Homo sapiens: one gene and its partner. The protein of the gene in region 1 purifies or fractionates together with the protein of each later gene. This does not show direct contact. Each region holds a gene or a part of one and is shown on either strand. Other genes may lie near its edges.

Evidence for each region.
Region 2: the proteins of ZBTB4 (region 1) and SIN3B purify together in Homo sapiens (affinity purification with western blotting, with the first as the bait; one study listed by BioGRID). This does not show direct contact.

Annotation. Positions count from the first base shown.
Region 1 is NC_000017.11:7,466,132-7,469,631, reverse strand, and holds part of ZBTB4 (zinc finger and BTB domain-containing protein 4), read left to right. Parts: intron 1-2,304; 5' UTR 2,305-2,375; intron 2,376-2,821; 5' UTR 2,822-2,830; coding exon 2,831-3,500. UniProt on the Homo sapiens protein: Transcriptional repressor with bimodal DNA-binding specificity. Represses transcription in a methyl-CpG-dependent manner.
Region 2 is NC_000019.10:16,860,398-16,863,897, forward strand, and holds part of SIN3B (paired amphipathic helix protein Sin3b), read left to right. Parts: intron 1-1,954; coding exon 1,955-2,162; intron 2,163-2,254; exon of another isoform or gene 2,255-2,486; coding exon of another isoform or gene 2,487-2,582; exon of another isoform or gene 2,583-3,246; coding exon of another isoform or gene 3,247-3,282; coding exon 3,283-3,399; intron 3,400-3,500.

The DNA of each region.
Region 1 (3,500 bases):
CACCATGCCTGGCTAATTTTTTTTTTATTATTATTTTTAGTAGAGATCGCCACATTGGCCAGGCTGGTCTAGAACTCCTGACCTCAGATGATCCGCCCGCCTTGGCCTCCCAAAGTGCTGGGATTACGGGCATGAGCCACCGTGCCCGGCCTTAAAGAGGGAAAGTGGCCAGGCATGGAGGCTCACGCCCATAATCCCAGCACTTTGGGAGGCCTAGGTAGGCAGGTCACAAGGTCAGGAGATCAAGATTACCCTGGCTAACACGGTGAAACCCTGTCTCTACTAAAAATACAAAAAATTAGCCAGGCATGGCGGCGGACGCCTGTAATCCCAGCTACTCAAGAAGCTGAGGCTGGAGAATCGCTTGAACCTAGGAGGCGGGGGTTGCAGTGAGCTGAGATTGCACCACTGCATTCCAGTCTGGGCGCAGAGCGAGACTCCATCTCAAAACAAATAAATAAAATTTAAAAGGAGGGAAAGCTAACTGCTACCTTTCAGGGTAGTGATAAGGAACAAATGAGGTAATCCAAATAAAACACTGACTCTTGGGGTCCCGGTGAGCCAGTGGTTCTCATGGAGGCGAGTAGGAGGCCTGGGCATCAGCCTGTGAATGCAGTGAGGCCCCTTCCGCAGGATGCCTGACCTACGACCTACCTGAAATTCACCAACTGACAGGGCAACACTTGACCCAGAACCTCATCAGTCCCTGGCAGACAGGGTTGTTAAAACTTTGGAATATCATCCCTGTTTACCATCTTCCTTCTTCCCATCCAGGAGAGGTGTCAGGAAAATATTTTGGGGGATGTGAAATGGGGTATATGTGGGGAAAAGGCCTTTGAGTCCAGACAGTATGAGTGATAAATGGGAAAGAAGATTTTTCAGGGGATGGGAATTGTATGAGGAACTCCTGATGCCGGACACCTCTGAAGACACGTGGCCCACGGCATACGGAAGGACACCCTCAAAGATGGGTGACAGCTCCCAGGCTTTGTGGAGGGCAGAGGAGAGGGTCCGGAGAGCTCTGCTCTCAAGTCTGCGGGCCTGGATCTCTAAATAGGTGCCGCCTGTCATTACCAGCGCTGTGTGACTTTGGATAAGTCTGGCTTTTGAACTCAAACCTTCAACTGAAAAGAGTCTTCAAGGCCCTGATGGTGCCTGCAGGGGAAGGTGGCTGCGCGGTGCTTTCTCTGCTGCTGACTGCCTGAGCTTGCGTTTCAGTTGTCTGCTCTTCCCTTTGTTTTTTGGGGGGTTTTTTTTTGAGACGGAGTTTTGCTCTTGTTGCCCAGGCTGGAGTGCAGTGGCGTGACCTCGTCTCACTGCAACCTCCAGCTCCCAGGTTCAAGTGATTCTCCTGCCTCAGCCTCCCAAGTAGCTGGGATTACAGGCACGTGCCACCACGCCCGGCTAATTTTTTGTATTTTTAGTAGAGATGTGGGTTTCACCATGTTGGTCAGGCTGGTCTTGAACTCCTGACCTCAGGTGATCCACCCCTCTTGGCCTCCCAAACTGCTGGGATTACGGGCGTGAGCCCCCGCGCCTGGCCTTGCTCTTCCCTCTGGACGAGTCTCCCAGCAAGAGGTGAGGTAGGAGTTGTGATTCTGCCGCTTTTTAAGTCCAGATCCCTAGGGCATCAGGTCTCTGAGTAAGGCGTGGGACCAGGCCTCCTGGTCTTGTGGCCTTTCCAGTGCCCTCCAGAGGCTGGAGCAAGCTGGCAGTTGTGTATGGGTCAGTGGTCTTCAATGGTTGCCTGGCAGCTGCGCCAGAAACCCCCTTCTAAGATTTATGGGGCTGGAAGGATGTGAGGATGTCCTCTCCTAATTTGAATATCTACCAGCTTAGGTCCAATTTTTAAAAACTCACAAATTATTTTGATATGTAAATGAGACCATTGTGATAAATGACAACATGCAAATCTTTGACTTCCTCTGAGCCCTGGAGATTGGGCCAAAGGGACTTGAGAGTGCTGTGACAGGCTTCCCTGAACCTATGGACTGGACCTGTGCTACTATATTGTTTGGAGGTGAATTGGGAATATGCAAATTATCTTGTCACTGTACTTCTCTGGGCCCGCAGAACAAGGCTCTGCAATAATCTGCGTGACCTCCCAGGTTTGACTGGACACAGCTAAACAAATAACCTGGCAGAGGCTCCGGGGAGGGGTCTGGGCTCACCCAGGTGTCCTCTCTGGCCACAGTACTGCACCCCTCCCCACTTCCTGGGGGCTTTTCCTCTCACTTCCCTCCTTGAGGACCCTCTTCTGCTCCTCCTCTAGGTTCCCCTGACATAATTTCTGTTTCTCCGCAGAAGGAAGAGGCCCAGCAGAAGGGACTCGCTGAGCCACCCCCCGCCCCACTCCATGTTGGCTGTGCTCTCAGGTGAGAAGGTACCCAGAGGCCTACAGTGAGGACAAAGTAGACCCAAGGCAGCAGGCCAGCAGGGGCGGCCATTTTGTCTAGGCTGGGGAGTTCTGTGAAATGGCTATCAGGAGTTGTGGAGCTTCCTCCTCCTTCCCATGAGAGAGATTTGCCTCACTTACATCTCTAGTCTGTGACTTCAGAGGTCATGACCCCTTGACCTTCACCATGACCTGAGGTATCTCTGGCCTCTTCCAGCCTCAGAAGTGAGTTAGACATACTGGTCTTGGATGCTGGCCAGACTTGGGTGGCTAAGGGCCAACCCCTGACTTCTGTGACCAGAAGTGATTCAGCCTTCCACTAGTTTCTGACCAGCAGCTCCTGATCCTCTCTCTGCCTGATTTTAGAAGCCCCTGCCCTCTGCCCAGCCTCTGAGACTCTACCCGGCCTCTTCTCCCACTGTCTAGGCTGGCACCATGCCCCCCCCTGCAGAGGTGACGGACCCGTCCCATGCCCCCGCCGTCCTGCGCCAGCTCAATGAACAGCGGCTCCGTGGCCTCTTCTGTGACGTCACCCTCATAGCCGGAGACACCAAGTTCCCTGCTCACCGCAGCGTCCTGGCTGCTTCAAGTCCCTTCTTCAGAGAGGCCCTGCTCACTTCAGCCCCACTACCCCTTCCACCAGCTACTGGGGGCGCCGCACCCAACCCTGCCACCACCACAGCTGCCTCTTCCTCCTCCTCCTCTTCCTCGTCTTCTTCCTCTTCTTCCTCCTCTGCTTCTTCTTCTTCTTCCTCTTCCTCTTCCTCTCCCCCTCCAGCCTCTCCCCCTGCTTCTTCCCCACCCCGGGTCCTGGAGTTGCCAGGAGTCCCAGCAGCTGCGTTTTCTGATGTCCTCAACTTCATCTACAGCGCCCGGCTCGCACTGCCTGGTGGTGGAGGGGACGGGGCAGCTGTAGCAGAGATTGGAGCTTTGGGGCGCCGTCTGGGCATCTCCCGCCTTCAGGGCCTGGGGGAGGGAGGTGATGCCTGGGTACCTCCTACCCCAGCCCCCATGGCCACCTCGCAGCCTGAAGAGGACAGCTTTGGGCCCGGGCCCAGGCCAGCTGGGGAGTGGGAGGGTGACAGGGCTGAGGCCCAGGCCCCTG
Region 2 (3,500 bases), on another chromosome or scaffold:
GCAGCTTTTTTGTTGGTCTCTTTCCTTCCTACGTTTCCATCGGCTTGTGGGTTTTCCTTGTGAGCAGGGTTGGCATAGGGTTCTTAAATACGGGGAACGACGGAGCCCACATCAATGAGGGGGACGTCGTTATGCGAGGGTGGGCTGGGTGGCTAGGTCACAGCAGGATTGTGGCACCAGCAGTCAAAGTAACTGCAACTTTTTTTTTTTTTTTTTTTTTTGAGACGGAGTCTCGCTCTGTCGCCCAGGCTGGAGTGCAGTGGCGTGATCTCGGCTCACTGCAACCTCTGCCTCCTGGGTTCACGCCATTCTCCTGCCTCAGCCTCTCCCAGTAGCTGGGACTACAGGCGCCCGCCACCACGCCCAGCTAATTTTTTTTTTGTATTTTTAGTAGAGACGGGGTTTCACCGTGGTCTCGATCTCCTGACCTCGTGATCCGCCCGCCTCGGCCTCCCAAAGTTCTGGGATTACAAGCATGAGCCACTGCGCCTGGCCATAACTGCAACTTTTTTGGTAGGATCTGATGTTACTGCTTAGAGACGGGGTCCTGCTCTGTTGCCCAGGCTGGTCTCAAACTCTTGAGCTGAAGTGATCTTCCCGCCTTGGCCTCCTGAGTAGCTGGGATTCCAGGTACACACCACCAGGTCTGATACTATTTTAAACAGAAATCCAGGTGGCATTGTAGGGTCATTTGCATTAAAGCCTTCCTGTTGTCGACCACAGCCATGACATTATGACTTTCAAGCTTGTGTCCAGAGAGGGGTTCACAGAGAGAAGTCTCCCTCATGAGAGGAAGACTGTGGATCAGAGATAGGCAAACTTGATCTCTGAGGGGCCAGATGGGCTTTGTGGAAATGACTCAAACCCCTCTTGTGCAGGCAGCCACAGGCAGTGCGTACACAAGTGGATGTGACTGCAGGCCAGTGAAACTTTATTTACAATGGGATGGCTAGGCATGGTGGCTCACGCCTGTCACCCCAGTACTTTGGGAGGTTGAGGTGAAAGGATCACTTGAGGCCAGGAGTTCAAGACCAGCTTGGGCAACATAGCAAGACCCCATCTCTACAAAAAAATTTTTAAATTGGCCCTGCATGGTGGCTCACACTTGTAATCCCAGCACTTTGGGAGGCCGAGGCGGGTGAATCACCGGAGGTCAGGAGTTTGAGACCAGCCTGGCCAACATGGGGAAACCCCGTCTCTACTAAACATACAAAAATTAGCCGGGCATGGTGGTGCATGCCTGTAGTCCCAGCTACTCAGAAAGCTGAGACAGGAGAATTGCTTGAACCCGGGAGGTGGAGGTTGAAGTGAGCCGAGATTGTGCCATTGCACCCCAGCCTGGGCGACAAGAGTGAAACTCTGTCTCAAAAAAAAAAAAAAAAAAAAATTTAGCCGGGTGTGGTGGCACATGCCTGTGGTCCCAGCTACTGAGGAGGCTGCGGTGGGAGGATCTCTTGAGCCCACGAGTTTGAGGTTGCAGTAAGCTGAGATCATGCCACTGCCCTTGAGCCTGGGCAACAGAGTAAGACACTATCTCTAAAAAGAAAATACCAAACCAAACAAAACACAGGCAGTGTGCAGACTGGCTGTGGCTTGCCACTCCCTGGCCTGAAGCCTGGCCTCTTCCAGTCAGGGAACATCAGGGGTTCCAGCTTCTGCCAGTTTAAGTCATCTTTTCTGGTGTATTTCAAAGCCTTACTGTGAGTATGGGATTAATAGGCACAGGAAGGGACCTGGTGTGTGACAGATGGGTGGGAGGCCCATTCATTCACACACCCCGGGACTTGCAGTGACTTCCTGTGTATTGGATTCTTCCGCCTCTCATTCGCATCCATGATGTTGAATTCTGACTCTGTTTAACTTGTAATGTCCACATGAAGCCATTCTAAAATCTCCAGATCCCTCTCAGAAGGCCCTGGGGATGACCAGTTACCATGTGTCTTTATCTTTGAAGGAAATTTCCAGAACTCTTTGCACAGTTCAAGTCCTTCCTGGGGGTAAAAGAGCTGTCCTTCGCGCCACCCATGAGCGACAGATCCGGGGACGGGATAAGCCGGGAAATTGATTATGCATCCTGCAAGCGCATAGGATCCAGCTACCGGGCACTCCCCAAAACCTACCAGCAGCCCAAGTGCAGTGGGAGGACAGCCATCTGCAAGGAGGTAGCGCTCCCTGGGGCTCAAATGTTCGTTGACATGGTGCATCCCCCACCCCTCCCCAGCAAACACCCGATACCCCCGTTATGAATGAAATGCTGTGTGCTCAGCCCTCCTGAATGTTGGGTTATGGGTGGTGCTGGGATGTGGCCCGGCAAAACCACCTGAGCAGAGACAACAGTGTTGTACCCTGCTGGTAGTTTTGGCAAAACACAGAGTGCCAGGGATAACGTGGAGTTCGGCTTATTCATCTGTTATTTGACTTAGGTTTATTGCTGCCATGATTCTGCTCTGTCCCGGGCTCACTGACCTCAGTGTGTTTCTGTTTAGCTTGACCATTGGACACTTCTCCAGGGTTCGTGGACAGACGATTACTGCATGTCCAAGTTCAAGAATACCTGCTGGATTCCAGGATATAGTGCAGGGGTCAGCAAACTCTGGCCCACGGGCCCTGGCCCGCTGCCCGTGTTTGTAAATAAAGTTTTACTGTCACACAGACACAACCATTCCTTTACATATTGCCTGTGGCTGCTTTTCTCACCACAAAGGCAGAGTTGAGTATTCATCTGGGATGGCCTGCAAAATCTGAGATGGTTGCTGTCTGACCCTTTGCAGAGAGAATTTACCAATGTCTGAAATGAAATCGGCCCTCCGGATCTGCAAGTTCCTCATCTGTGGTTTCAACTAACCATGGATTGAAAATACGTGGGGAAAGAGAAACCAAAAAATGACAATACAGCAATAAAGCGTAATCCACATTTTAAGAATGCAGTGTAACAATGATCTACACAGCATTTACATTGCATTAGGTATAAGTATTCTAGAGATGATTTTGCATAGGATATATGCAAATAGGATTCCATTGGACATCAGGGACTTGAGTATCTGTGGATTTGGGTCTTCAGGGGTGGTTCTGGAACCAATCTCCCAGGATACCAAGGGAGTGTCCACTTGACCAAAGTCATGTTTTTCCTTAAAAACTTTATGCACCTTCCCATTTGTATAAGGCAGTTGGTATTATGTATCAGGATGGTATTATGTATCTTGGTACTTTCTACACTGGCTAACAGTAAATCTTGGCTCCTGGGGCATGCAGCGTCATTCACGGCATTTCCTCTTGGTGCAGGTACTGAACGACACCTGGGTCTCCTTCCCTTCCTGGTCTGAGGACTCCACGTTCGTCAGCTCCAAGAAGACACCGTACGAGGAGCAGCTTCACCGCTGTGAGGACGAGCGCTTCGAGGTGTGTGTGCTGCTGTGGCCGGGTCCCCCGGCATGTGCCTGTTCCCCTTCTCCATGGGACATGCATCCTGATCCTCCTCCACTGCCCCAGTCTCGTTTGGA